Regions from separate parts of the Homo sapiens genome. Here region 2 is linked to region 1. The links come from fine-mapping of genetic effects on plasma protein levels. Region 1 holds a variant in brackets. A gene starts in the other region. All regions are shown on their forward strands. Region 1 overlaps RAPGEF3 (Rap guanine nucleotide exchange factor 3). Region 2 holds the start of BOC (BOC cell adhesion associated, oncogene regulated).

The links. PIP is the posterior inclusion probability: the model's chance that the variant is causal. Protein levels are from antibody-based Olink assays in UK Biobank. Linkage for the fine-mapping came from a reference panel and not from the study's own genotypes, which makes the PIPs less certain.
Region 2: it holds the start of BOC, and the variant in region 1 is fine-mapped to the plasma level of the BOC protein (UK Biobank, PIP 0.98).

Annotation. Positions count from the first base shown.
Region 1 is chr12:47,743,066-47,758,279 of GRCh38, forward strand. RAPGEF3 (Rap guanine nucleotide exchange factor 3) reads right to left here. Exons shown (of 28, transcript NM_001098531.4): 2 at 14,801-15,013; 3 at 8,851-8,904; 4 at 8,658-8,764; 5 at 8,334-8,455; 6 at 7,983-8,151; 7 at 7,276-7,360; 8 at 6,865-6,925; 9 at 6,676-6,752; 10 at 6,325-6,471; 11 at 5,754-5,866; 12 at 5,389-5,477; 13 at 5,009-5,087; 14 at 4,647-4,797; 15 at 4,479-4,561; 3 more. It also overlaps a transcript of SLC48A1 not described here. Among named protein-coding and RNA genes, the nearest start is that of RAPGEF3, 8.2 kb to the right of the region's middle. RefSeq lists enhancers at 9,395-9,936, 10,421-10,715, 12,543-12,712, 12,743-12,812, 15,026-15,214. The variant A/G (reference allele first, on the strand shown) is at 6,467.
Region 2 is chr3:113,197,539-113,211,997 of GRCh38, forward strand. It overlaps BOC (BOC cell adhesion associated, oncogene regulated), which reads left to right and starts at 14,019. Exons shown (of 20, transcript NM_001378074.1): 1 at 14,019-14,459. LOC124909486 reads right to left here. Exons shown (of 2, transcript XM_047449436.1): 2 at 9,859-14,459. The coding sequence ends at 14,017. RefSeq lists an enhancer at 14,380-14,459.

The DNA of each region.
Region 1 (15,214 bases):
ATGAGATTGTTATTAATTCATATTAAATGACTAAACACAAATGATGATAATAATAGCAGCTAATACTTATGTATCACTATGTGCCGGGCACCATTCTAAATGCTTTCATAGATGAACTCAATTGATCCTCACAATTCCTCCAGGAGGCAAGTACTCCTACTATTCCCATTTTATGGATGATAAAACTGAGCACAGAGGGATGAAGTACCCTGCCAGAGGACACACAGATGGTGAGCTAAAGGGCTGGTGCCGAATGCAAGCAGCAGGCTCCAGAGCTCATGCTCTTACACACTGCATGAAATGCACTTCGAACAGACGCACTCCACCTCCCATTAATGCTAGCCATCATTCACACTGAGGAAGACCAGAAAGATGACAATGATGACAATGATCTTGACTGGGGGACCTGGGCGCAGATCCGAGGGGCCACCCTCCCTTGGGGTCTATCCAGGGGCACAACTCACCACCTGCAGAATTGACCTTCACCAGCACCTGCCCCTTGGTCCAGCCATCCTCCTGGGCCAACGCTGCCATCACCTCTCTCACGGAGGCTGTCACAGGCAGCTGCAGGGTCAACACTGAGTGGTCTGGCCGGCAGATGTCATAGGGGACTGAAGAGGAGACCAGACTGAGCTGTGGGAAGGGCTGCCTGATCTCCACCCCAGGAGGGAGAGGGCGGCTATTGCAGTAATGGTGGGAGGGATCCCCAAGAGGCTGAGCTGCAGGTGGGGAGGCCCTGAGCAAAAAAGAGGCAGGTAGGAGGCAGATCTAGCCAGCAGCCTGGAACACAGACCCTGAGGAGTACAGCGTGCCACCTTGGCCCAGGCACACCGAGGTCAAGAGTGACGACAGCAGGACAAGAGAGGCAGAGACAGCAGGGTGCAGATGTCGGGCTGTGCCCAGCCGGCACAGACCACCAACCTTTATCCCCAACTTGGATGGCACAGCTGCTGCCAGGAAGGGGCTCGTCCTGGTTGGGGAGCCAAACAGGCAAGTTCCGGGCCTGGGAGGAAGAGGAACGAGAAAATAAGGCTGGGAGGACATGAGAGGAGACCGTGGAGGGAGGGATTGTGAGGTCCCTGTGTCACCAGGAGCACGGGCGCCACACAGCATTCACACCACCAGAGGGCTCTGCTTGCCACATTCACCTGAGCTCAGGTAAGGCACCTGGGACCAAGGATCCAGGAGAAGACACAACATGTCTAAGGGCGGGGCAAATCCATGCCCCTCCGTGTGTGTGTGCTTCTGCATCTGCCAGATAGGTCCAGAGCAGTTCTAATATGAAAATCCTTCAGCTGCTGACTTTGGTTTTCTCTTCCTTTTCCTCCAGCTACCATTTGCTACAAGCCAGGCATTATTCTGAGGATCTAAATATTCACAATGCGCCTTTGACAAAAGTATTATTTTTATTTCCATTTTATGGATGAAATAAATGAGGCTCAGAGAGGTTAAGTAACATGCCCAAAGCCACACAGCTGCTAACTGGCAGAGTTGGAATCCCTCCTGCTCCTTTCCCCCTCTGTGCTCCGATACTGTGTCAGTGGCCCTGTCCCAGCCCACAGCAGGGATGCAGTTCATGGAAACCACTGTCAGGCCTCTGCTGGCAGGGCAGCGCCTGCCAGGCAAGTCTCCTGACTCAGGTTCCCCTTCCCACCCTGCTTTTTTCCGACTCTGGTACTGACTCTGTCCCTCCTCCCAGCTCTGCGTATAGCAGATCCTCCAGGTTCGGACCTCAATCCATTGCTCTTCCCTACATTTCCAAATCTCAGGGACCCCTGCAGAGTTCCTTACTGCCTCATGTGTCGCCTGCACATGGGTGATTCCCAAAACTACCAGCAGTGCTGAACTCTCTTCCAAACCCTGGTCTCAAAAACCCCCTGCATCCTTCCACATGAATGATCCATTACCTCACACTCCATATACCCATCGGATCCTTGCATCCTGCCTCCCAGACCACTCTGTTCCCCAGCCATTCTCCCCAGCTCCAGGCTCCTCCACACTTCCGTAGCTTGTCATCTTGCTTTGAAGATTCTTCTTTGAAGTGGGTCTTCTGTGCCCCCTCCTCCCCTGCCCAGGCTAACTCCAGTTCCACCTGCCCACGAGGCCTCACTCCTTATCTACTCCAATGGCCCAACTATGCTCCTCCTCCTCCCTCCCAGGTGCCTCCAGCCCTCCTCCTCCAATCTGCCTGACCAGAGCCCTGTGAAGCTCCCGCACTCGACTTCAGTGGCGTCCATTGTCTGCTGGAGAAAGCCCAGGCTCTTTAGCTGACCTATTCAAAACACAAATCAGACTTTGCCAACCTTGGCTCAAACCCCTTTAATGGTTTGCACTGCTCTTAGGACAAAGATCAGACCCCTGTCCTTGGCCCAGGGGGCCCTGCCCACCTCCTGCCTGCTCTGGGGTCCTACTCTTACTCTCGCTCCTCCAGGGATCCTCCTCCTGGGTTCCCTTTCCTCCTGGGTTTGCCCACCAGGAATCCTCTTCTTCCTCCACCCTTGCCCCCTGCAGCTCTCAACTCCAGTAGTCGCTTACACGGGACACTTTCCCTGAATCTGCACTGGAGTTGGCTCTTCCCCTCCCGTTTTCAGGAGCGGACTACAGTTGGAAGAGCCGACTCCAGTGCACATTCAGGGAAAGTGTCCCGTGTCACTGCACATCACGGGTTGTTGAACTGCTCTGCCCCTTGCCTGACTGCAGCCCCACAGGCCAGGGTTGAATGAGGTGCAGCATCAGCACCTAGCGCAGTGCCCGGCCTGCGAGGGTGAGCCCACATCAGTTTCTGAGCGTCAGCCAAGAGCCAGGCAGCATGTGAGCAAGGAGAAGCGGAGGTGGGGGCCCGCAGGAGGGAAGTCAACTCTCCAGTGGGATGGGAGAGATACCAAAGGACAGAAAGCAAGTAGGCAAAGAAAACAACTCCACATGGCGAGAGTGCTTTGAAGAAAATCACAGAGGACACCAAGGCAGAGCGTGGTGGGAGAAAGGGGAGGGTGCTCCGGATAGGGAGACGGGAGGGGGCCTGTCTGGGAACCCAGCATTTGGCTGAGATGAGAACGAGAAGGATCCTGCCAGGCAGAGCCAGAGAAAGACCCTTCCAGGCTAAGGGATAAGTGCAAAGGCCCTGAGGGGAGAACGGGCTTCGCCTGCGGAGGAGAAGAAGCCAGTAAGAGTCTCCAGCAGGCAGGGGCTGGGACACACAGTAGGGTGGGACCATGGGGAGCCTGCTGGATGGTGAGGCCCCTGGATTTTATTCCCAGTGCAGCCCTCCCCACCACCAACCTAATCTACCTTTCCAGTTCTTTCTCCCACCATTCCTCAACCAAATCCTGGCTGCAGTCACATCTTCTCATCCCCTCTTTGCTTCCCTTTAAGCCCCAGCTGAGAATGGCCTGGGGCCCCCTCTGACTTTCCAGGGAGGGGCCTCGCCTTCCTCTGAGCTCCCACAGCACTGGCCACCAGGAGCCCCGTGGGCCTCAGGGGCCAACTCCAGCCACCATTCCTCATCTCCCAGGCTCTACCTGTGGGCATGAATTACCTCCCAAAAGGAATAAAAGGCCCATTGAGTCAGGGAGTGGGCGAGGAGGGAGGCCACCTTAGGCCTCTGCGCCTCCTGGCACGGCCTGGCCCAGGGCACCACATGCAGCAAGGGCCCCGTGAACACCTATCAGAGACCCAAGGGTGTGTCTGTGGGAGGAGAGCTTCCCACGCCCACAGAGCCCCTCAGGGTCAGGGGGCGAAGGAGGGGCCTGCAGTCCAGGAGGAGCAGAGGAAAGAAACTGGGGCCAGGCAGACACCTTCATCTGAGGAGATGCATTCCCACAGCCATTCTCCAACCTGCAGACAAGAGAGAAGGGAGGTGAGTGAGCCCAGGTATCCCTGGGGCTGCAGCAGGGAGGCCCTTGGGGCTCTGGATTCTCCCCGGCCCTCACCAGTGGTTCAGAGGTAAGCACGACCAGGTAAGTATCACATAAAGAGGGGAGAACACGGTCTTGAAACCAGGCCCCCAGACTTTGTGATTTTCCAAGGCCAGGAGGGGAAGGAAAAAGTTAAAGGCAGATGCAGACCCAGGGTTTCAGATCAAGTGCTGTTTCAGATGAGCTCCCAACCCCCCTGAATCTCAGCTGCTCCCGTGGGAATATCTGCAAAGGTGAAGGTAAAGTCTAGGAAATGTACCGGGCGGGACTGGCAGAAGCTGGCACTGAGGGTATTTGGTAATAAATGCATGCCCAATGGAGGAAGTGAGAACAGCAGGTGCACTCAGGATATGAGAATGAATAAATGAATGAGTGCCTGATGCATGAGAATGGAGGGACATGTGGTGTGAGGGTGAACAGCAAGGGGACTGATAAGAACAAGGAATTGAAGTAAGTGGTGCAGCCTGGATCTGAAGCCAAGTGCTTGACTCCAGAGCGTATGCTCTTGGTCCCCATGGCACTGCCAGTTATGGAAATGACAAATTAACAGAGTCAAAGCATCACCTGTGGCATCGCCGCCTCTCTGGCCACTGCTCCCTCAGCAGGTTGCTGAGTCGGGTGTCCCTGCCCACCAGGTCTGAGAGTTTCTAAGAAGAGCCAAGATTCACTGAGATGGCTGTAGCTGCATCCACCCCGGGCAGCCCAGCCCCGCTGTGCCTCACTCCCAGGTACCTGGAGGAAGCTGGTGGCCACAGGGTCAGTGTGGAGCATGGAGCCATACAGGGCCACCCACTGGCTGACCAGCCGCAAGATCTGCTGCCTCTTGTTGCAGACGTAGGTGCTGCGCTCCTGCTCGCTGCCACCCGCAGGCTCCACATGGAAGGTGGGCACCAGTCAAGGGAACCACAACATCCAAGCAGGGCCACCCACCTGAGGCAAAGGAGGGGCAGGATGCCCAGGGCCCCTGGCAAGCTGGGCCTGGCAGCAGGCTGGCATTTAAAGGGCTCAGCACAGCCACGCTGGTGAGATTTTCTCTCAACCCCACGCACCATCCTATCCCCATGCACACCATCCCCCTGGAGCTGGAAGGATATTGGTGCAGAAGGGCAGCGCAGAGTTGGGCGCTGGGCATGAAGACCCTGTGGGTCAGGAGGAAGTCGCTGAGGAATGTCTCTGTATGACAGGGTGAGGGGATGGGAGGAGGCTTCAGAGGCCAAGTCTGCTGAGCACAGGTGTATGGACAGCTGGAAGGACCCTTCCCCACATCCCACCACCTGCAAGGTCCCAGCAGTGTCCAGCCCCTGTGATAGTGCTCCCCACTAAGCCAAGAGCACAGGTAAGAGGACTTATTGCCAACTTCTGTACAGACCAATCCAGCATTCGGTGACGTCAGATGCAGGGTACCTGGCTCTCTCCCAGGCTCCATGGACCACCCAATGAGTCAGAAAGCAGGCAGGGTGTCTCTTGCCCTTACCTGTTGGGTCATGAGCACTGGAATCTGGTCCCATGGCCTCCAACAGAAGCTCTAGGATCTTCTCTGGGGTGCCAGACATCACTGTATACCTAGCAGAAATGGCCAATCTTTGGCACTGGTGCCACTACTCCCCACTCCCACACCTGGGCAGACATCAATAATCAATTACATCATTTTTCTCCATTAGCCAGCCCTGTCCCACCTTAGGGCAGGGAGGAGACTGGCTCAGCAGGCACATCCTGGTCCCTCAATACCTCTCCATCCACAAGTGGCCAGAGGGCAGGGATATGACACAGGGGAAGGGAGCAAAGATTGGGAAATGAAAGGAGGGACAGTGTGGAGAGGGAGCATGGCAGGTGTATTACCGGTTCCTGCCTGGGGTTGGGGGTCGGGAAGGGCCGGCGCCCTGAGAGGCTCTCTCCAGCACCAGCACCACTTTGCCATGTTCTTCCAGCCGCATGGTCTTTGCCTCCACATCCTGGAGAACAGGCCACATCCCATGCTCAACTCATGATGTTCCAGCTTTAGACCCTCTCATCTACCTCCTTCATTCCAGCCCCTGAGCCCCATGAGGGTCCCACAGGGACCCACAGCCCTTCTCCCACCTCCGACTTTGGCTCCACCTCCTCAGCCTTCCCTACCTTCCATGCATCCTGCCTCCCCCACAGCCTAGTCCCCCGCCCCCTGCATGCCCATCCTTCCCCTGGTCTCCCACACTGAGCCTGAAGTCACTGGTCTCACTGAACTCCTTCTGTGCCTTATGGGCTTCACCTTCTCACACACACCCAGGGCTATGGTCCCACTGCCAGCTGTCATAGCCCAGCATCTCTTACCTGCCCTGCTTCTTACAGGCCCTCTGCTCTGGTCCCTACTCCTCTCTCCACATCACTTCTCTGGACGAATGGCCCCTGCCCTCCCCAACCCCAGCAGCAGCACCTTGATGATACGGTTGAAGTCCTGCTTGTCCACACGCAGGAAATGACAGTTGTCTTCTCGCAGGATGATGGTGGCTGCCCGGGGTGCATCATTCACCAGAGCCAGCTGTCCAAAATCATCTCCCTCATGCAGGGTGGTCACC[A/G]GCCCCTGCAGCCAGGCCTCAGTCTCAGCCCGCCCCTGCCGCCCCTGCCGCCCCCAGCTCTTGCCAGGACAGACCCACGGCAGGAGAACAACCCACACAGGAGACACGGGGTCAGCAGCAGTAGATCAACAAAGGCACTGCCCATGAGGACATGGACCAGGGAGCAGTTAGGACCCAGGGCACTGGGGTGGGGAGGAGGGAGGGCTCACCTTGCCATGGGTCACCACGTTGACAGATCCCTTCCAGATAATGTACCACGAAGTGCCCTTGTCCCCCTGGCTGAACACTGACAGAAGCATACCTCAGACCGGGCCCTCCTGGCACCTACCATTCCTTCACACATCCTTCTGCCCATGTCCAGGCCCTGTGCCTGGCTTCTTATGCCCTGCTGGACTTACACACGGTCCCTGCCTTGCTGTGTGGTTCAAAGAGCAGAACAGCCGCTAATTCTCGCTTCACCTGTGTGGTGGAGATAGGAGAGTCGGTGGCGACAAGTTCATGTGCAGAGCAGCCAGGCTTTTGCTAGGGGTGTGGTTAGGTCCAAAGACACAAGTGCTGGGGGACAAAGATGTGGCCAGGTCAGGTGTTCCCAGGATTCAGCAGGAGACAAAGCAAGTGGAGAAAATGGGCTGAGAGAGGCGGAAGGATTTTCAGACAGGGCAGCGCCGGGGGCAAGAAATCAGACTGAAAATTTCCAGCCATAGATGGAAGTGGAGAAATGCCCTCTGGCCCAGCAGTTGGAGTTTCAGGGAAGTCACAGGAAGAGAAGATGCCTGGTACGGGGCAGGGCTGGGAGGGGCAGGACTGACCGAGTTGGAGAGGTGGGCCACAGCCTTGATGTGCAGCAGCTCCTCAAAGATGAGGTCCAGCTCTTCATCCGTGCGCTGACCTGGGCTGCAGGGACAGGAGGAATGGGAGCACACTGTGAACTGTGGGCCCGTCAGGTGCAGGGAGCCACTCCACCCACCCAGCCGATGCCTGTGCCAGACGGTGCCTCAGCAGTGACAGTTATCAGCAGCAGCTAACCTTTACTGAGTGCGCACATGTGGCAGCGCTTGTGATGAGCATTTTGCATGCATTGTTTCACAACAACCCTAAGGAGTGGTTCTATCATCCTCACTTGACAGAACAGGAACTAGCATGAGGAGGCTCAAGGTCACCCAGCCAGTAGCCAGTCCAGCTGGAATTTGAACCTGGACCCACCGGACTGCAGTTTCCAAAACCCACTTGCTTTCAGCCACAACTGTGTCTCTGAGTGGGAAGGGTCCTCAGAGATCCCCCTGGTCCAACATCCTCATCTACAGAGGAAGAAACTGACTTGGGGGGGTTTGGGAGTGTGGAGGGATCCAGGTCACACAGTGAGTCCGTGGCAGTCAGCGCCAGGGGCTTCTGGGCCAGCCAGGTTCCCTTCCCTCCACAACAGGTAAGGGATGCCCCCAGAGATCAATCTGAGAAACCGTGAAATCTGAGTGCTGTGTGAGGCCTGGGGTCACGGGGTGCAGGGATTCTGACTCACGGCTTTCGAAGTGCCACAGTGAGCAGGGCGTCAGGCCCCCGCTGGGAGAGCAGGGCCACAGCTTCGGCCAACTCCTCCTCCATCTCATGAGTTCTCACGGGCTCGGGCTCGGGCCCGGGGAACCGGTAGAATTGGGCATCTCGGTCCTGGAAGGCCCAGTCGTGTTTCACTGGGGGGCAGAGGCCCAGGCGTGGGGGAGGAGAGGAAATTGAGGCTATGTGGGTATGAAACCCCACTGCGATGCCACCCCTCAGCACTCCCCAAGTAGTGCCTGCTTCCCAGGACTGCCCTGTCCTGTCCCCCTCACTGCCCAGCCCAGCCCGGGGCACCCCACCCTGGGCTCGGGCTCACCATGGCAGAGGGCACCTTCATCCAGCAGCACCTGGCAGATTCCCACAACTTGGCTCCGGGAATGGACCCCAAGTCCCAGGGCCAAGATCCCATCCACCAGCTCCCGGCCAGAGCAGCACTGCCTATGGAAGGTAGAAGGGGACAGGCCAGTGGAAGGAGGGTGGCAGGGAGAGGGAGGAACTATGCATTAGAAAGGCACCCTCTGAGGCCCAAGCCTGGTTCGTCCCTGTGCTAGAAGCAGGGTGAGGCCCAGGTGCCTGACATAAAGTGGAACGGAGAGAAAGCAGTGAGGCTGGGCAAGGAGGCAGCAGGGCCTCCACTCACCGATAGAGCCTAAGGTGGTACTTCCGGTCTCGGATGAGGTTTGGGCAGGTGGCCAGCAGATGCCGATGCAGCTGCCTCCCAGCCCTGAGCACCCGCTCTGTGGAGGCCTTAGAGGGAGGAAGGGCACAGCAGTTCAGGCTCTGAACCCCTCATGGTGCTGCCTGTCCCAGCTCCACCCTGCCCAGGCTTCTACCTGCTCCAGGCTCTCGCTGAAATCCAGGGACTCCTCGCTGTTGGTGAGTGGTGTCTGGGGGCAGCAGGGAAAGCGTGCACATCAGTGTGAGGTCTTCAAGCCCAGCTCTTGGATACCTCCCCTCCCCCATCACTCCCACTCTTGCCTAGGCCCCAACCCCAAATGCATCCATGTGGCCACTCCTTCAGCAAATAAACAAATATTCACTCAGCACCCTGTGCCCCGGGCATCGCCTCTTCCCACCCTGCCATCCTGATCACCAAACCCAACTCAAGGACTGCCTCCCTACAGTTGAGAGCCCTAAGACACCCATTCTGCTTACTCAGGGCCCAGGTGTGCCCATGCCCCCAGGTGAACTGCCCCTGTTGGGGGAAAGAAGTGAGGGAGCTGGAAGGAGCATGAGGACATGAGATAAGAAGACCTGGGAGATGGGAGCCAGGATGTGAGCAGCTCAGGAGGCCTGGGAACATCCGCTCCTGGGCTGGGGTCACAGACCTGATCCCCAGCCAGGTTCTGTGTCCTTCCACAGGCCCATGAGCAGGTGTCTTGCCATCTCTGGGCCTCGGATCAGCCTGGTTGTCAAAACACAAACCCTGGAGCCAGGCTCCTGGATTAAAATCTCTGCTTCCCCACTGATGGCAGATGTGACCTGAAACAAATGATTTAACCTCTCCCTCCCTACCTGAGTCTCCTGAACTGTAAAATCTACAAAGCACTAATAATACCGACTCATGAGGTTTTGGGAGAATTAAATGAGTTGCTACACATCGAATGTTTAAAGCATTGCCTGGCATATAGTTGTATGCACATGTTAGCTAGTACTCATCTGTGAGGCATTAGGGTGGGGCTGCTTGCTGGAAAGCGTCTTTCTTCTCTGAGATGTTGCTAGCCTGTGCCCTGCGAGAGTGAATAAGTCCTTGGTGGCACACAGGACTGGCTCAGGAAGACGCACTTTATCATGGAAACACTGCTTAGTAAGGATTCCCTGCCCTTGGTAACAAGCCATTTGGAACTCCCGGGCCTGTACGCCCTGGAATAATGGCCATGAAAGCCCCTCACGACCCTTCTCTTCCTACCACCTGAGAATCTGGGGTTTGTGGACATCTCTGGACAGGATGCTCTACCATCTACGAGCCCTCTCAAAGGGCTCACTTTACAGTTTACAAAGCACTTTACAGTTTACAAAGCACAATCGCCCCCTTGATTTCATTGGATCTCATGTAAAATAGGATCAGATGTGAAATAGGCAGAGCAGGCATTGTCTGTCCTCTGTCACTTACAAGGAAATAAAAGCCTGGAGGTGAGGTACCTTGTGTAACTCAGTTGCGCATACTTCGGACAGCCAGACAGCTGTGGAGAAGTTCAAGTTCCCACCCAGAAGTGCTCCCATTCTCAGTCTCCCTACACCCACCCCACCTGCCCCTTTCCTCTCCCCTCACCAGCCACCTCTCTCCTAGCTTCCCATCTGGCTTCAGGTCCCTGAAAAGGACCTGCTGGGGAGTTGCAGTACAACCAGTCCTGGTGCTGGCAGGGCCCTGGGCACAGGCATCTTGGCACTGCGTGCCCAAGCAGAGGCCTGAGGTCTGGCATGTGCAGGCGCCTGGCCCAGGGCTGGGCGGAAGTCACTAGGTGTCCCAAGGGTATCCCTGCCCGGGTCATGGGGCCCAGCCCAGTGCCAGACACAGAGCCCTGGAGACTTAACGACAGGAAATGAGAAGGAGGAGGAGCCAGGGAAGGGAGGAAGGGCAGGAATGCTACCCAGCCAGCCCCCTGTGTCGGAACAAACAGTGCCTGAGTGCTAATGACTTGTTGTTCATATCAAAATGCCCAGGTGGCCCCAGTCCCTGCCCCAACTCCCATTGGAGCCCACAACCCAGGCTCCAGCACCAGCCCCCTTCCTGGTATTATTCTGACTTGGGAGAGGGCACATTAGGAGGGGTGGTGCTGGGTCACGTGGCCAGGTTGGTCATTTCCTGTCCTCCCCCAGGGGATGAGGATGCAGGTCAGAGAATGGCCCTAGTCCATGAGCACTGAGGAAGGGACTTTAAGGAATCCCTCTCATTTTGACAAGGAAAGCAAAAGCCCAGAGAGATCACACAACTATTTAGAAAGGTAAGATTCTACTGAATAACTCTGCTACTGGTGCTGACCCCAGAGGTAGGTATTTGTTTCCTATTTCACAGCTAGAGAAAAGAAAGCTCCAAGGTTCTATAACCTGCCCTAACTGTTGGTCAATAAGGGCACCAGGATTCATACCTATGTCTGATTCCAAAGGCCATGCTCTTAGCATTATGCCCTACCGTCTTCCATTATGCCTATTCCCATGTTTCCTCAGCTTTGTGCTATAGGCACAGACAGTAGAGGTATTCTGCCTTCAGGCAAGTTCTGTGGGCAAGTAAGTTTGGAAACCACTGGGTTAGACAAAGATAGACAGGTTTGTTATTCTACCCTCTCTGTGCCCCCAGGATGTTTGTGTGCCTGCCAACCTTCTAGGATGGGGCGGAGAGAGGGCTGCTATTCAAGGGCAGTGGTCAAGTGTGTAGGCTCTGCAGCCAGATGCTTGGGTTCAAATCCTAGCTTTTGCGTTACCATCTGGTTGTGTGAGCTCGTGCTGATTACTGAAGTTTGCAGTGCTTCGGTTTCCTCATCTGTAAACTGGGGTTGATGATATGAATAGTACCTATCACAAAGGGTTATGAGGATCAAAAAGTTAATAATATAAAGTACTTGGAATGGTGCCTGGATCATAGTAACTACTTAGTAAGTTTAGTTGACTTGATCAGATGTTATTATTTCATGATGGGCCCTATTACCAGGACACAGTGCAAAAAAATACAATGCTAGTCATGTCAGTTTCAGGGTTCTCAGTTGGGAAGAAGCAGCTGATATGAGTCAAGGTGAAGGTCCTCCTCACCCACTCCCCACTCTCATTCCTGAACAGAAAGGGTTCAGGGCGGAAGAGGAGGCACTAACTCCCCTGGCACCAGCACTGTGGCCTGCCCCACCCTCACTCCCTGTCACTGAATGTCAGAGCTGGGCTGGAGAGACAGGCACAGAGCCAGACAGCCTGGGGACCTGTCAGACCAGTTCCCTTGGGCCATAGCTAAGGTGTCAAGCTAGGGCTGCTTGTGGTGGGACAGGGGAAGGGTGCATGGGGCCGGGATGATGCCTTAAGGTGTCAGTGTTACTGTTCGTAGCAAGAGAGAAGTGCAGCATGGTGGTTATGTGGTTATGAGCTTGGACTCTGCAGCCAGATTGCCTGGGACCAAAGCCCAGCTTTGCCACTTAGCAGCTGCGTAACTCTGAATCTGTCACTTAACCTCTCTGTGGCTTTGTTTTCACATCTATAAAATGGAGATGATGACATTAGTACCTATCTCACAGGGCTGTTGTGAGAATTATTTGATATGATAAAGGCAAACCTCTTTCAATAATGTCTGGCACATAAGTACTGTATAACTATTAACTACTACTATTATTTGGATAGGTTGAATGAAAGTGCGTTCTCGGAGTTACAAAACAGGGCCACTTCCCCAAGAACAGTCACACAAAGAGAATCATCTCAGACTTCCCTGAGCTAGTAGAACCCACCACAGGTCACTCTGATCTTGCCCCTGCCCCCGGACATCAGACAAGATCTCACCTCCCCCTCTTATTTTCCAAAGATGTTCTTCCATCCCATTCCAGTGTCACTTTTGCAATAGCTGTTAAGTCTTATCTTAGTCTGTATCTAACTGCAAGCCCTCCTACTGTAACCCGCTTTCATTTTCTCTTGTCCTGGTCTAGGTAGGAACAGAAAGAGCTGTCTTCAGACTTCTTCTCTGGGAGGTTGATGGGTTTTCCCCTTGGCTTTCGAAGAGGGAGGTCTGGCCTCAATAACTGGCAGTGCTGTCTTCCTGGGACTCGGGCTCCACCCCTTCACCATGGGCGTGCATGCTCACAGCTGGCACTCATTCCCTCACGGAAGCCTTCCCTGGGCTAAAGGCATCATCAAGAGGTAAGAAGTACAGCTTCACAGGTACCCAGAGCCTCTCAAATATAGGCATGATGGAATGAAACCTCCCCACCCCAGTCCCCAAAGTTGGTCATCAGAAGAGGGAGTGGCCGCCTGCCTCTAAACACTAAAAATCTAAGTTCCCTCTAGTCACCAACGCCCACCTGGCACGGAAAGGCCTTGTTTTGGTGCCTTTGACCCCATTTACACTCCAGCAACCTTTACCCCCACCTTTCTGGCCTTCCCCTGCACACCAGCCCTTCATTTCTGGGGGCTGTGGAGAGTCAGGAGACAGCTTGGTGGCCTCCTCCACTCCCTCCCAGACTTCAGGTCCCAGGAGATCCTCCAGTGACCTATTGTCCTGGCACCTGACCTTCTCCCTACCCCCTACCTTGCTTCCACAAGCTGGGAAGGGGACAGGAAATGCACAAATAATTATAGCCCAAGAGGGAAGGAGGGAGGGAGGGTTCCAGCCCACTGGCTCCAGGCAATAGCTACAGCCAGTGACCCGGAGAGCGGAGAGCCGGAGAGCCAGAGGGGTAGCGGAGGAGGACCCAGGCTCATGATAAGGAAGACCCTAGTAGAGAACAGCTCTACCAGGACTGACATGTGGACTCTCCTCTCAATTCTGATTGCAAAGAGGAGCCCCTCATCTTGGTAGGTCTCAGTTTTTTCAACTCAGCCTCACTGTAAATGGCAGTTGGGCAAGGTAGGGGGAAGGAGGGAGAGGGTGGTGGTTATTCCACTCAAAAGGACTTGCCAATAAGAAGTGAACTCTCGGCTAGGCGCAATGGCTCATGCTTGTAATCCCAGTGCTTTGGGAGGGCGAGGTGGGCAGATCACGAGGTCAAGCGATCAAGACCATCCTGGCCAATATGGTGAAACCCCATCTCTACTAAAAATACAAAAATTAGCTGGGCGTGGTGGCGCACACCTGTAGCCCCAGCTACTCAGGAAGCTGAGGCAGGAGAATCACTTGAACCTGGGAGGCAGAGGCTGTAGTGAGCCAAGATTGCTTCACTGCACTCCAGCCTGGTGACAGAGGAAGACTCTGGTTAAAAAAAAAAAAAAGAAAGAAAAGAAAAAAGAAATGAACTCTCCCGGCCAAGCGCAGTGGGTCACGCCTGTAATACCAGCACTTTGGGAGGCCAAGGCAGGTGGATTGCTTGGGCCTAGGAGTTCAAGACCTACCTAGGCAACATAGCGAAACCTGGGTGGACACACGCAGTGGAGACATAACTGAATCTCAAGCTAAGCTACTCTATTTAGTCTGGATGGTTGGGGATAGCTTCTCTGCTGATTTGGATAGTACAGCCATTATCTTGCCTCCCAAATCCCACCATTCTTTCCCCTCCCTGCTCTCTCCTTCATTCTTTCAGGTCCAGAGATGTTTCTCACTAGCAAAGGGCACTTTGGTGATCTCAGATTCTCCAAATGTCTCAGAATCCTTCCCTGAGCCCCCCAAAGGCAGGTACCAAGCAGTGTCCACATGATCACCTCACCCTAAGACCAAAACGCAGAATTAGCACAGTTCAGTAACTCACTAAAGGAGAATGTTGCCACGGTGATGCACCCAGAACTGTAACCAAGCTTACCTCACTCCAACCCATTGACCCGGCCCCCATACCTCCCACCTCCACCTGGAAAGAACACACAAGTACCTAACTCAATGCCGGCTCACTGAGGTGACAGATAAACAACAAATCCCTTTCCCCTTCCCCCCATGCCCAAACAGAGACATTTGGGCAGAACACACACACAGACACACACACGTTGCAGCTGTGTGAGCCACCCACGCACACTGCAGACAAGCTTCCTGACCCAGTGTCCACGGCAGCTGTACCACTGTACACCCCCAGAGCAAGCTGGGCCACCAGCAGCATGCCAAGCCATGATCTAGGCCCCCCTCTAGCTCTGGTACTGGCCCTGGCACCTGGGCAGGTGAAAGGTACTCACCCAGCGCAGCCCCTGGATGCAGCTCGGACGCTGGTGCTCCAGCAGCAGCTGGTAGGAGCAGCTTCGGGGCCGGTGCATCCTTCTCAACACCATGTTGAGTAGTGTCCCCTCCGGCACCACGTCAGGGAGGGCTCCCACCCGCGGTGCTCCCAGAGCTGGGCTATCCTCCACAGCCAGGCCCACCTGCCAGCAGCTCTCACCTGGCCAGCCCACCTGTGACACGGGGAGGAAAGTGGACAGCCATGGGACACGACTGGGGCGGCTGGGCCACAGTACAACTGCCCCAGGCAGAACTACTTCCTTAGAGTCCTCTGGACTGGTCAGGCGGAGGTGCTGCAACCCTGCCAGGAGCTGGGGGGAGGAACAGGAAGACCTTCACTGGGGCCTGCCGGTCTGGCGCACTTAGGGGTCTCC
Region 2 (14,459 bases), not on the chromosome of region 1:
TTTTTCAGCTTTGTGATTAATAAATATCTTGGGGGTGATCTTTTGAGACTACTAATTTTAGCATTAATCAATGGATCTTGAAAAATTACTGCTGTAGTATTCTAATAAATATTTTCTACTTCCCTAACTCCTTCTACATTTATTATTTGAAAGTCTCCTTTAAGGAAGAGTTGCCATTCTATTTTATTTATTTATCCAATTATTTATTTACATCAGTATGGATTCCTGAATATTTATTGTGTTCTATGGGTTATAATCCAATACAGTTGCTACTTATTTTACTGTTGTTCTTTGGCTACAGCTGGGCTCCTTTACCCTTTCAATAGCTGCCCCCATCATTTTTTGAGTACTTCCTTACTTTTTCGGCATCACGAAATACTCCTGGCTCATTTTTCCTGCCCCAGCCCTGGAATCAAACACTTTTCCAAGTATCCTTATTTCTTTTTTCACTGGAGAATAGTATGTAGAAACCAAGATTTGAGTGCTGGGTGTGCTCACTGCTACTGGGGTGTCATTGTTTTTAACTCCTCTCCATAGACAGAACTAGGAAATATATGTATGAATACTAGGATTGTACTAGGTACATACATAAGTCTGTATTTTTTGTATATATATTTTTAAAACCATGAATTCATACCGATATCTCTGACTCCAATATGACACCAGAATTCATTCTAGCCTTTTCCCTTTCCCTATTTGTAACTTTTTTCTCGGATAGTGAGAAATTTGGCTTTCATTATTGATGATGTATTTAATTATTAGTTCAACTGTAGTATACACACAAAGTAGTTTCAGAATTGCTAATCAATACTCCTGTGAGACATAAGTTTACTAACTAGAGTATAGTAGTTGTTTAGCCTCACAGTATCCAGTCAAAATACTGTTTTCCGAAGTAACTTAGTTTTTTTTCTTCTCCGCTCCCTAAATTACAGTTATGTTAATAATTTGTAATACAGTTGGATTTAATTGTTACAGTTTGAATTCCATTTTGAGTCCCCTCCCCCTATTCTGATTGTTATTAAAAATTTACATACAGTAAAATTTTCTCTTGGAGGAGTATAGTTCTATGGGTTTTGACAAATGTATGTTATACAATTTTAAGTTGTTTTTCTATGTCCATAAAACTGGAACTTTTTCTTGTAGATCTTTAGCCACTTCCACTTATTTTTCAAAGTGCCTGTGGTAATCTTTTGAACTGGTTATTTGTGAGGAAGCAAAGTTCTGCGTCTCTGCGTTTCACATGAACAGGAGGAGCTGAGCTATGTCTGTATAAAGCCACCACTCAAATTTGGTCAAATCATTACTTTCTATCACCTAAGCAACTGTGTCTGCATAATCAATTACATTGGCTGTGCCGCCAATCTATATCGACTCTTAAGACATCAACTAACTGGTGAGGGAGGATGTGTGAAATCTCAAGGGCTAGGAAAAAAAGAAGTGTTACAGGTGGCAGCTGGTCGGTTCTTCCTCCCTTTCTCTCTCTTTTCTGCAGCAAACATCTACCTATTGCCTACCATATTCCAGAAGTTTTTCAAGGCATTAGAATTACAATGATTATTAAGACCCAGGCCCTCCCCATGGGTTTCACAGCAGGTCAGGAAAATTGAAGATACACCACATGGAAACAGCATCCCCCCAACTGAGAAACGTGATAGCCTGAAATAATTATAGATCAGTGCAGAGAGTGCTTTGATAAGGGTAAACACCAAGTGATAGGGGTCCTCGGGTAATAGTCATCCCTCATGCTGGGAAGGTCCAGTGGGCAAAGAAGTCAGAGGAACTAACTAGCTAAGTAAGAGCCCCACATACACAAAGGCCTACAGACTAAATATCCTGGAACATTCCTAAGAAGTTCTGTACAGTGAGGAAAGGAATGGAGTCAGGTAGGGAAATGGTTGGAGACCACACTGGGGCAGTACTTACCAGAGATCAGTATGAAAGGGTTAGTGTACTTTGCTAAGGAGTTTGATTTCATTCTAAAAGTGGTCAATGATATCAATGAATAATTTTAGGGGTAAGTATATGACATGATCAAAGTTGCCATTTCTAAAGATGTCTCCATTAGGAATGTGCAAATGGACCAGTGAGGGAGGCAGAGGGGAGGCAGGGAGATTAATCAAGAGGCTTTTGTAATATTCCATGTAAGAAATGATGAAGGTCTGGACTAGGACAATTGCAGAAGAGACTGAGCTCAGGTAATGGATTCTGGAGAGATCTAGGATGTGGCACTATAGGAGGTAGTGATGACAATTACCTGTGAAGAATGAAGAGAAAGAAGGTGTCAAGAATGATTCCCAAGTTTCTCTCTCAGACAGCTAGATAATCCTGTTGTTACTCAGGCTGTTTAAGACTATTTTGTTTTTAAACATCAGACATGGTGAGATAAGCACATTGTTTTTCTTCTAAATAAGTAGGGCTTTGCTAATATTACACAAATTCATTGAGGAGGGGTCAAATATAAGAAAGTTTCACTGTTCATTCCCATCATTCCTAGGCCACACTGGAGAAGAAAGGAGAGGATCCCAGTCCCAAGGAGTGTAGAGGATTACAATTTCAGATAGCTTTGAGTTTGGTGTGTCCAGCAGGGTCATGAGTTGTGCAGCCAATGCAGTTGCACAGAGCCTTGCACTCAGAAGGGTCCTGCACTCAATTTTAATTTCTGGGGATACCATTGTGAAATTTTTAATGAACTTATCTTTGAATTTATATTTTGAAAGTGAAATTCTATGAGATAATAGAGCATTCACTGGGGGTTTGGAGCCTCAGCTCATGTGTGGTCCTGCCTGCCCCTGCCTGCCCCTGCCTCTCTCCTCCCTGGGACAGGTTCTCAACCTCTCACTCCCTTGCCCCCTGGTGCCCTAGCCTCCTCTGATCTCTCCCTTCCCACCCCCACTCCATGACCTCAGTCACCCTCTGCCACTTGGCAGGGTCCTGGGTGTAACCATGAGGAGGTTCAGGATAAGGCATGTACCCCATTCTCCTCAAAAAAAGGGCAAGGCAGTGGTTGCTCCCACCCTAAGCTGTCAGCTCTCAGGCATGTTCAGCCAGTGACTTGGCAGGGACCTCTAGTCCACCCCTTAGCATGTCTCAGTCTGGAGGTTACAATCCCTTGGGGGTCACCTCTCCTCTGTGGGTTATGAGAAATGGAGATTGACTTCTCTACTCCTTCTGGGACCCTGCATTTTTATTTTACACCCTGTGAATCATGTAAGCAACTCTTGGTGTTGGCTGATGACAAAAAAAAGGGTGGATGGAATTATTCTAACTCATATGTATCTTTCAGGAAATGAGATCCTTTCTTGTCCCATCAAAAGAGGAATAAGACATTCTACAGTGAGGTCAAAGAGGGTGTAAAGCAGAGACCAGGTCAGGGATGAATTCTATTGCTATAAGCTTTCTGGGAGAGACTCAAGTCCTTCTTTTATGGGGTCAAGTGAGCATGATCCAGATTCTTATCGACTGTGGCCATTCTGGGGATGGTCTGCACCTATACAATAAGTTACAAATCATTTTTTTATTGCAGTAAAAAATGTATCATTAAATTTGTCAACTTAACCATTTTTAAGTGTATGGTTCAGTGTGTTAAATATATTCACATTATTATGCAATAGATCTCTAGAACATTTTTATCTTGCAACACTGAAACCCTAATCCCCCTAAAAACTACTTCTCCCTATACCCTATCCCCAGTCCTTGATAACCACCTTTCTACTTTCTGTCTCTTTGATTCTGACTACTTTAGATGCTTCATATGAGTGGGACCATATAGTATTTGTCCTTTTGTGACTGGTTCATTTTGTCAGCATAATGTCCTTCCGATTAACCCATGTTGTAGCATGTGAAAGGATTTCCTTCTTTTTTAAGGCTGCATAATATTCCATTTTTGCATGGTTATATCACATCTTCTTTATCCACTCATCTGTCTATGGACATCTGGGTTGCTTCTACCTCTTGGTTATTGTGAATAGTGCTGCAGTTAGTGCTACAGTGAACATGGGAGTACAGCTATCTAGTCAAGATCCTGATTTTAATTCTTTTTCAAGATCCTGATTTCAATTCTTTTGGATATATACCCAGAAATGGGATTGCTGGATCATACAGTAGTTCTATTTTTAATATTTTGAGGAACCTCCATACTGTTTTCCTTAATGGCTGCACCACTTTGAATTCCCATCAACAGTGTGCAAGGGTTCCAATTTCTCTACATCCTCATCAACACTTAATTTGGGTTCTTTTTTTTTTTTTTTTGAGAGTTGCCAACTTGTAATATTGCATTGTGGCTTTGATTTGCATTTCCCTAATTATTAGTGATGTTGATCATCTTTTCATATGCTTATTGACTGTTTACATATCTTCTTTGGGTAAATGCCTACTCAAATCTTTTGTCCACTTTTAAATCAGGTTATTTGGTTTTTTGTTGTTGAGTTAAAGTTTCTTAGATATTCTGGATATTAATCCCTTATCAGATATATGACTTGCAATTATTTTCTACCAATCTGTAGGCTGCTTTTCATTCTGTCAATTGTTTCCTTTGTTGTGCAGAAGTTTTTAAATTTGATGTAGTCCCCTTTACCTATTTTTAAATTTTATTCCCTATCTTCTCAATGTCATAATCAAGAAATTGTTGCTAAATCTAATGTCCTGTAGCTTTTCTTCTATGTTTTCTTCTAGGAGCTTAATAGTTTTAGGTCTTAGTTTCAGGTCTTTAATAACTTTGAGTTAATTTTTTGTAATGGTGTAAGGTAAGTGTCCAACTTCATTCTTTTACATGTGGACATCCAATTTTCCCATCACCATTTGATGAAGAGACTGTCCTTTCCCCATAGTGTAGTCTTGGCACCCTTGTTGAAAATCATTCAGCCACATATAAGATGGTTTGTTTTTAGGCTATCTATTCTACTGCATTGGTCTATATATGTATCTTTATGATAATACAGCATCGCCTTAACTGCTATTGCTTTGTAATGTGTTTTGAAGGCCGGGAATGTGAGCCTTCTGACTTTGTTCTTTTTCAAGATTCTTTTGGCTAGTCAGGGTTTCTCGAGATTCCATATGACTTTTAAGATGGTTCTATTTCTGTAAAAAAAAAAATGCCATTGGGATTTTGAAAGAGGTTGTATTGAATCCATAGACTGCTTTAGGTCCACAAATTAGTTTGAAAACATAAAACCACTCACAAATAGGTGTGCATGTAAAACTGGCAAAATATGAATATGGCTGATGAGTTTATCAATGTCATTTGTTTAAGATATTGTACTATAGTTAGGTTAGCTATTGTGCTATTGTCGGGGGAACTGGATGAAAGGCATAGAGACTCTCTCTGTATTGTTTCTTACAACTCGTGACTCTATAATTATCTCAAATAAAAACTAAAAAACAAAGTCAGTCATACGCTATCATTTCAAACATACCATTAGCATCTAAATGCAAAATACTGTGTACAGACAGCTTTATAGCTAAGACAAACCAGGCTTCACCTGCTTTAGGCAAGGGCCCGGTATTTAGTTGTAAACCTGTGGTTCCACCCCAGGCCCCGTATTAGTTATTGGTATTCCTTCAACATTACAGACCATGTAGATCCATTAGGCTTTAATATATATCCGTGCTACAATAGGGATACTTGATTTTGTTAATTCTTCATCCACTTGATATATTTATATATTGGGCATCCACCATGTGCCAGGCATCATGCCAAACCTGAGAATACAAAGATGAAACAGATTGCCTTTGTAGTTGAGGATATTCCAGCAAGAAGACAGACAGATCCACAATTATAATTACAATGCTCATGGTAGATGCCAGGCAAAGGCAAAAAAGGGTTTCATTAGAGGGCAATCCGAGTTAGGAAGGGAAGGTTTGAGTAAGTCTTCCTAGAAGAGATGATGTTAGAGAAAATTCTTAAAGGGTAAGTAGGAGTTTAATGAGTGGAAAAGAGGAGAAAGGAAATAAGTCAGAAGGAAATAAAGTGGGCAGGCTGGAAAGCATGATAAATTGTGGTGCTTTGAGGAAGGGCAAGGAGATACTGGAGCACAAGATACAGTTTAGTGGGGCCCTGAGGAGCCAGCCTGGGGAGTTGAGCTGGACCAGACCATGGAGCAGGGAGCACTTGTGCCTTATATCAAAGGAAGTGGGGAGCCATCAAAGAAAGGCAAGGACATGAATGATCCCATCTTCATCTCTCCTGAATAAACAAGGACAAGGCCTATAGATATTGCTTTTTAAATAATTAGGAATCAGTGAACTGTGAGATTAACTTTCTTAGTCGTTCCTTATCTCAGGCACAGTTTCACATGCAAGGTATTGGGACCACCAAGCCTCTAACAATTCCATTTTCTAGTTGATGAATTCAACAAATAAAAGGCAAAGAATATACAGCTGTTTTCTGATTCTCAATGAGAGAGGTGGCAGGGAGGCTTCTACAACACCACCAGCCCCAGAATCTATATTCTTGTCAATTCCTCTCCCTTCCTCATGGCTCTGCCTGCAGGTCCACAGAGAGCTTCCAACCACTGTCCAGGGAGGCCGGTCAACCTTCCCTCCATGACCAGAACTGCAGAGCAGCTTGGGCCTCCCTGTTAAATTCTGCTTGTGAGTGGAGGACTTGAAGAAGTGGGGTAAGGTGGAGTAGGGTCAGGCATAGTTAGGTTTCCTGATGCTGTGGCCAAAAGTCTCAGAGAATCGCAGGTATCTTATGAAGGAGAAAGAAAATAACACATGTAGAACAAAACAAGATGGCATAATACCTGCCTCAAAGCTTGCAGTGGCAGCTTTGGCATTAGATTCTGCCCAGCTCAGTCCCCAGAATATGGATTCCCCTCCATGGAAGCATCTCATTGCTAAAAACCCTTACAAGATGTGTGAGAAACTTCTTCCCCCTTAAATGGCTGACTGAACAAATTTAACGGAGGCTGTTATCCACTGAGTTTAGTATCAAAGCTCTGAGATCCAGTTCTCTTTGAGTTTTTGCTTTCATCTGGAATCTTGCGCCCCTGCCCTCTTTGCTGCCGTCACTGCACAATGTCAAACAGCTGGAGTCTGGGCAGCACCAGAATCCAACTGTCTCAGCCTAACAAGTGAAGGGATGGGGGAAGAACAGATGGCGGGAGATGAGGAAGGTGGGGGTGTCATGGAGGACGAAAGGGGGCTGTGCTTGCTTTAGAGAATCTGATATCTTGGAAAAGTGGTCTCACGTGGAATTCAGTGTCAATAGATTCTATTTGTCTAGGGCTTTGCAAAATCAAGCACACAGAAGTGGCCTTGGACTATTCTATTTTTCATTTCTCTAACCCAGCTTCACCTCTCACTCAAACTTTTACTAATTTTCCCTCCATTTATTGAGTGCCTACCAAGGGTTTATATATACATATATACACATATATATATGTGTATGTGTATATATATGTGTATACATATATATGTGTATATATAGAGAGAGAAATAGTACATATATATTATTTCCAATATTCACAGAAACTAGGGTTTAGGGATGTAATTAATTTGTCTAAGCTCATGCAGCTTATTTAAGACTGGATTCAAACCCAGGTTTGTCTTGATGCCACAATATTCTTTTTTTAAAAATCTCATCCTCGGCCAAGCACAATGGCTCACGCCTGTAGTCCTAGCACTTTCGGAGGACGAGGCAGGTGGACCAGTTGAGCCCAGGAGTTCGAGACCAGCCAGGCCAACTTGGAGAAACACTGTCTCTACTAAAAATACAAAAAATTAGCCGGCCTGGTAGCAGGCACCTGTAGTCCCAGCTACTCCAGAGGCTGAGGCAGGAGAATGGCGTGAACCGGGAGGCGGAGCTTGCAGTGAGCCGAGATCACACAACTGCACTCCAGCCTGGGTGACAGAGCAAGACACTGTCAAAAAAAAAAAAAAAATCAACTGGGCATGGTGGTGTGCGCCTGTAATCCCAGCTACTCAGGTGGCTGAGGCAGAGGTTGCAGTGAGCCAAGATCACACCACTGCACTCCAGCCTGGAAGACAGAGTGAGACCCTGTCTCTAAATAAATAAATAAAATATCATTCTCCCCCTGGGGTACACTTGTCCATAGGGAGCCTTGTGGGGATCTGGTGATTAATTCCTAAAAGTCAACGGAACATATAGCCAGTAGGAATGCCTGAGTTGACAGCCTGGGGCTAGAGAAGTCAGTCCCAGCCAGTTCAACTTGTATAAGGAATAGATGGCATCATACCAGGCTCACCTGTAGTTCTGCCTGAACCATGCAATTTAGGGTTTAATTATACGCTGTCTTGCATTGTTTCTACTAATTGTTGCATAGGTCAATCTTATACTTTCATTCATCATTCTTCCTTCAGTCAACAAATATTTTAGAGCAACTGGGCATATTTCTTCTCCAGCAGCCCTTGCAATACCCAGCATAGAACGGTAAGCCAACTCAGATAACTAGTTAATGGTCCAGTCAAGAGCAAATGAGGGCTAATTTTCCTAATTATAAATTAATGGATTATGTTATGCATCTTGAAATTGTACTGAGATATTGCCTTAATAAATAGACACTTTATACACTCAACAGCTTGAATTTTAAAGCAGAAAGTTGGGTTCATGAATATCTCATTTCCAGTATCATTTATCAAGATAAAATGTCTTTATCCAAATATAAGCTTTTGAGAATAGTTATGTGTACAAAAGCCAATTTACTAATATTGTTAAAACTGTGAATTTTGGTATCTCGTTTATTTGTTTTTTTTTTGTTTTTGAGATGGAGTCTCGCTCTATTGCCCAGGCTGGAGTGCAGTGGCACGATCTCAACCCACTGCAACCTCCCGCCTCCCGGGTTCAAGCGACTCTTCTGCCTCAGCCTCCTGAGTAGCAGGGATTATAGGCATGCGCCACCACGCCTGGCTAATTTTTGCATTTTTAGTAGAGATGGGGTTTCACCATGTTGGTCAGGCTGGTCTCAAAACTCCTGACCTCGTGATCCGCCCCCCTCAGCCTCCCAAAGTGCTGGGGTTACAGGCGTGAGTCACCGCACCTGGCCGGTATGTCATTTTTAATCTTAACCCATACATCAGAACTCCATTCTCTTCCTGTATATAATATCCTTAGACTCTTACATTAGTTACAATTAGTAAGTTACCTTAGTTCTTGGAATGCACTTGAATGTCTCTTTCGAAAAAAGAAAAACACTCCTTGGAAAGCCCATAAAATACTTCTTAATGGCTAGACAAAATTTGGGCATTTTCTAAACAGTTTTTTTTTACTGCAAGAAGTAGCCTGCAATTCATGAAATAGTTGTGAAGTAGTGTGTTTCACTGGAAAAATCTTGGGTTTGGAATTCTTACCACCATTTAGTTGTTGGGGATCTCAGGCATGTTATTTAATTTTCCTTATCTATAAAATGGAGATAATTGCACCTATATAGCACAAGGTCATTATGGGGATTCAAGATGGAAGGTACACACAGAATCCAGGAGAGAAACTGGGAGAGGAAGGTGCTCAATAAACATTAGCTTATTTCTCAGAGGCTTGTTGAAAAGGTTAAATAAAATCATAAATATGATGCAGTTCATAGGGTAAGCAATTAGTGCCCAGCTCTTCCCATTGGAGTGTTGTTTCCACTAAAGTGAATATTTGGCAGTTGTTTTCTTTATTGTTCAGTGTAATCATTCAGACTAGATAATTCAATCAAGTCTTCACTTGGGACCTTGTGTTTGATGATCTCATTGTTGTTTTTAATTAAAATAATCTGAGAGATGGAAATGTACATTGGAACCACTGGAGGACAATTTTGTAATACCAACTAAAAGCATTTAAAATGTTATATCCTATCCATTGATCCCAAACTCCTACTTACATGAATTTACCCTTAGGAAATAATCAGAACAAAAAGATTTATAGCTAGATGTTTAGTCAACTGCAATACAGGATGATAATAAAAATGGAAACGATCTAAATATGTAACAATAGAAGAATGGTTGAATAAATAACAATCTCTCTCTTTGATGGGATAGTACACAGCAGTTAAGTCAAATTTTGAAGATTACATATGGGGAAAATAATCATTAAAATGTTAAATTTAAAAGCATGATAACCTGTATGTACAATGAACCCAAATTTGTAAAATATGAAAGTACCAGATAAATCAATGAAGAAGCTGGCTCCTGCCTGAATTACCAGATGCATTAAAAATTGTATAAAATATTGAATAAACTCACCCCAATTATGTTTCCCTTTAAATGTCTTTCAATTCTGATTCAATTAGAATCATATACTCAGTGTCGATAACGTGTTTATTTGTATTGATGAGAAACAAAAACAAGAAAGAAAAATGACTAGAAAAAACACTCCACTATGTTAATAACAATGTTATCCCTGGGTAGTAACTTTAAGTTGATTTTCTTCTTTTATGTGTTTTTCTACATTTTCTAAATTTTTGTCAGTGCACATATTTTATAATCAGGAAAGCAGATTTATATTAAAACAGAGGAAAACATCATCAAGTCCTTCTTTCTTGTCTACATCTTAATAATTTTCTCAGCATAATCCTCTCCAGATATCTTTCACAGTCAAAGAGATCCCTGTTTATATGATACAGGTAGAGTATCTACAGCACACTGAGAGGAAACCACGTCTTTTCATGTCATTCACTGAATTCCTTCCAGTTTATTCTGCACAGCCTAGCAACATAGTGACTTATATAGACCTACAATCCCTACTCACCTCCCCACTCCTTCCCCCGACCAAGCATTTAAATTAATGTGATGATCACTTCCATACCAAATGCTTCCTTCTTGGTGGAGGCCCATAACATTTCCAAGAAAGCAAGGTGCTAGAGGTAAATCACCATCAACAGAACGGACAGTAGCAAAAAGCACCTTACAAGATCCAGACTCCACCTAACTGTTTTGAAATGGCTAGAGATGCTGGAATGGGTTGGGGTGGGTTAAGATAGAGAAACTAATTGAAAGGGGAGGAGGGAATTAGGCAAGAAATACCCTCCAGGCAAAATGGAGTGGGGAGAAAATTCAGATACGTTGTTCTTACAGGACTAGTAGTAATAAACACAATCACATTAATACAAAGAGCAATAAAAACAATAAACATATCTGAGGTACCAACAGTGTGCTTGATGCCGCCAGCAGAATTAAGTCCTCTTTATTAAGCTGTGATCTGCATTCTGCCTAAACTATAAGAAAGGTGAGCAGCAGGCCGGGAGCAGTGGCTCATGCCTGTAACCCCAGCACTTTGGGAGGCTGAGGCGGGCTGATCACCTGAGGTCAGGAGTTCGAGACCAGCCTGTCCAACATGGTGAAACCCCGTCTCTACTTAAAAAAAAAAAATTAGCCTGGCGTGGTGGCAGGCACCTGTAATCCCAGCTACACGGGAGGCTGAGGCAGGGAGAATCGCTTGAATCGGGGAGGTGGAGGTTGCAGTGAGCTGAGATCATGCCACCGCACTCCAGCCTGGGTGAGAGAGCCAGACTCCATCTTAAAAAAAAAAGGAAAGAAAGAAAGGTGAGCAGCCTGCATGCATGAAGGAACAAGGCAGTGTGTCATTCTCCTGACTAAATGGTGCTGGTAGGGACTGTTACATTCTTTGTGTTCTGTTGTGTTCTGATGCTTAACTCAGAGCCTAGGGCTGTGTGGACCCAAAGACCAGAGTAAGAGAATGGAGAGTCCTAGGAGAAAGATGACAGAAGGGGTAGAAGATATCTTTGAGATGTCAAGCAACGAATAGTATATACAGGAATATAAAAGAATGAATCTGAGACCTTCATGCATCACGTTCTCATTGAGCGGTACTTGGAATCATCTTTGAAAAACAGAAGGCTGGATACGCTGCTTGGGTCCCTGGGGAGAAGGAGTGTTATCACTGCAGAGGAAGCTGGTTGACCCATTCCCTTGGGGGAATTAAAAGTTCTGTACCCAGGGTGGACCCCAGGCCTTGTAGTCCAGAATTGTGCCTTGGAAGGAGGACAAAAGAAAGTGGAAGCTAATATAGTCAATGACTGGAAAGAAAAATAGGTCTTTGAGAATGTTGGGGGAGATTGTTAGAGATTAAAAGGGAAGGAAAATTAGGATGATTAAGTAGGAAAAGGAAATGTAGGTGGATAATGCACAGAGAGAGTTCAGAGTCCTTTTCACCTTCTTGCTGAAAATGCATCATCCTCCAGATCCATTTTGCCAGAGGAACATGCCTAAGAATCCAGGCACAGAGCTGAAAGTACTCGATAAATCAAAAAGGAAATTGGCTTCTGCCTGAATGACTAAATACCGGAGAAAAAATAGTGCAAAATATGGAATAAAATACATTTATGTTTCCTTTGTAAAGGTCTTTTGGTTCAGATTCAATTAGAGTCCTATACTCAGTGTAAAGTATGTATGTTTACTGACAAGAAACAAGTTAATAAAAAACAAAACAGGGCCGGGTGAGGTGGCTCACGCCTGTAATTTTAGCACTTTGGGAGGCCAAGGTGGGCAGATCACTTGAGGCTAGGTGTTCAAGACCAGCCTGGACAACATGGTGAAACTCCGTCTCTACTAAAAATACAAAAATTAGCCGCGCATGGTGGCAGGTGCTTGTAATCCCAGCTGCTTGGGAGGCTGACACTGGAGAATCTCTCGAATTCAGGAGGCAGACTTTGCAGTGAGCCGAGATTGCACCACTACACTCTAGCCTGGGCGACAGAGTGAGACTCTGTCAAAAAACAAACAAACAAACAAACACACACACACACACACACACACACACACACACACACACACACACACACAAAACCCCCAGAGGCCCAGAAAAGTTAAGTGACTTTCCAAAGTCACAGTGGCTTCCTGACTCCCAGTGCAGCTGTCCAGCCACACAGGGAAGGCAGCACCCCCATTCACCCTACTACTAGCCTGGCTGTCTTATTTCCAGGACAGCTTCCTCACCAGCTTGGCACAAACTCCCAGTTCACTTTAAACAAATGGCTTAGCCCTGCTGGGACTTGGTTTTCTCAGCTGCAATGAAGATACGGAATGGATGACCGCTCACAACCTGTGCTTCATTCCTAAAAAATAAGAAGGGAATCCAATTTGCCACCAACTCAACATTTGCCTTCTCACTGCCCTGGAAAGGTAGTTTTTAAAACGTGGCCCCTGACCTGCAGCATCAGCATCACCTGGGAACCTATTTGAAATGCAAATTCCCAGGTCCACCTACTGAATCAGAAACTCTGGAGGTGGGGCCCAGCAAAGGGATTTAGCAAGCCTTCCAGGGAGTCCTGCTGCAGATCAAGTTTGAGAACCACAGCTCTGAAAGTTTTCTGACCAACACACACGCGCGCGTGCGCGTACACATACACACGCATAGGTAACTAACTTTTCCGTGGCCACTAGCACCCCCAACCCATGCCCCCAACCCCAGCCCCAGCTCTCCCTCCCCATTCCTCCCTGGCTCCATCCTGGGATGATGAATGGAGGTCAGGGCGCTGTCAATGGACGACGCGGCAAACCCTCCCCAACCGACCGAGGGGGTCGGGGGAGGCTGCGTTAAGGCTTCCCTGAGATTGGTTTCCTTATCATTTTCTCCACCGCCGCTGTCCCATTTTCTGATGAGTTTGCTTTTAATGATTTATCCAACAGTTTGTCTTGCAGAAGAAGAAGACCATTGAGAGGTGGGTGTCAGGAAAGTCTTGGAAGAGACTAGGCGAAAGGAGGGAAGGATTGTACATGGAAGAGCAAGGGTGCGAGGTGAAGCTAAAGAGAAAGTGAAGGCTTCAGGGGAGCCCCCTGGGTTCGGGGAAAAGGGAGAAGATGGTGCTTTTGGTATGGGAAAGCAAAAGAAGTTGGAGGAGAGCGCGGGTCTGAGGCACAGCAAAAAGTGGGTGTTAACGGGAAAACTGCCCTAGAGTTTGGGGGACTTTTTCCAGCTTCCTTTCCAAGACTTTTTCTTTGCTCCATTTTGCTCCTCCCCCTCCTCCCAGCCTCCTCCACTCCCTCCTCCTCCTCCTCCTCGCACGGTAATGGGAGGCTCCTAGGCAGGAGAAGCAAAAGAAGGAATTGTTTGCGAGTTCAGTCATCCAAAAAGCTTCTTCCATATGGAGGGACCGGGTGCGCTGGGCGCGGCGTCCCCTGCGTTGTCCTCCTGCTGCCGCCCCCGCGGCCGCCGCTTTCTGCCGCGGGGACCCTGAGCCCCGGCCCGCCGGTGTCAGCCGCCGCGCGCGCGCACAGACACACACACAGAGACACACAAACACACACAGAAAAGACACACACGCGCACACACGGCGCGCACACCCTCACGCCCGCCACAGCCACAACACGCCCGCACGCGCCCTCCCTCTCCGGCCCGCAACTTCTCGGTCCTCGGCTCCTTTGTTGCTCCAGCCGCGGCCGCTCGCCCGTGTTGTGTGTCCCCGGTGTCACCGAGCGTGTTGTGTGTCCGTGCGGCGCGGCGCTGTGTGGCTCCCTCGCGCCCACCACGCTGGCCCCCGGGCCCCGGCTCGCCCTTCCCA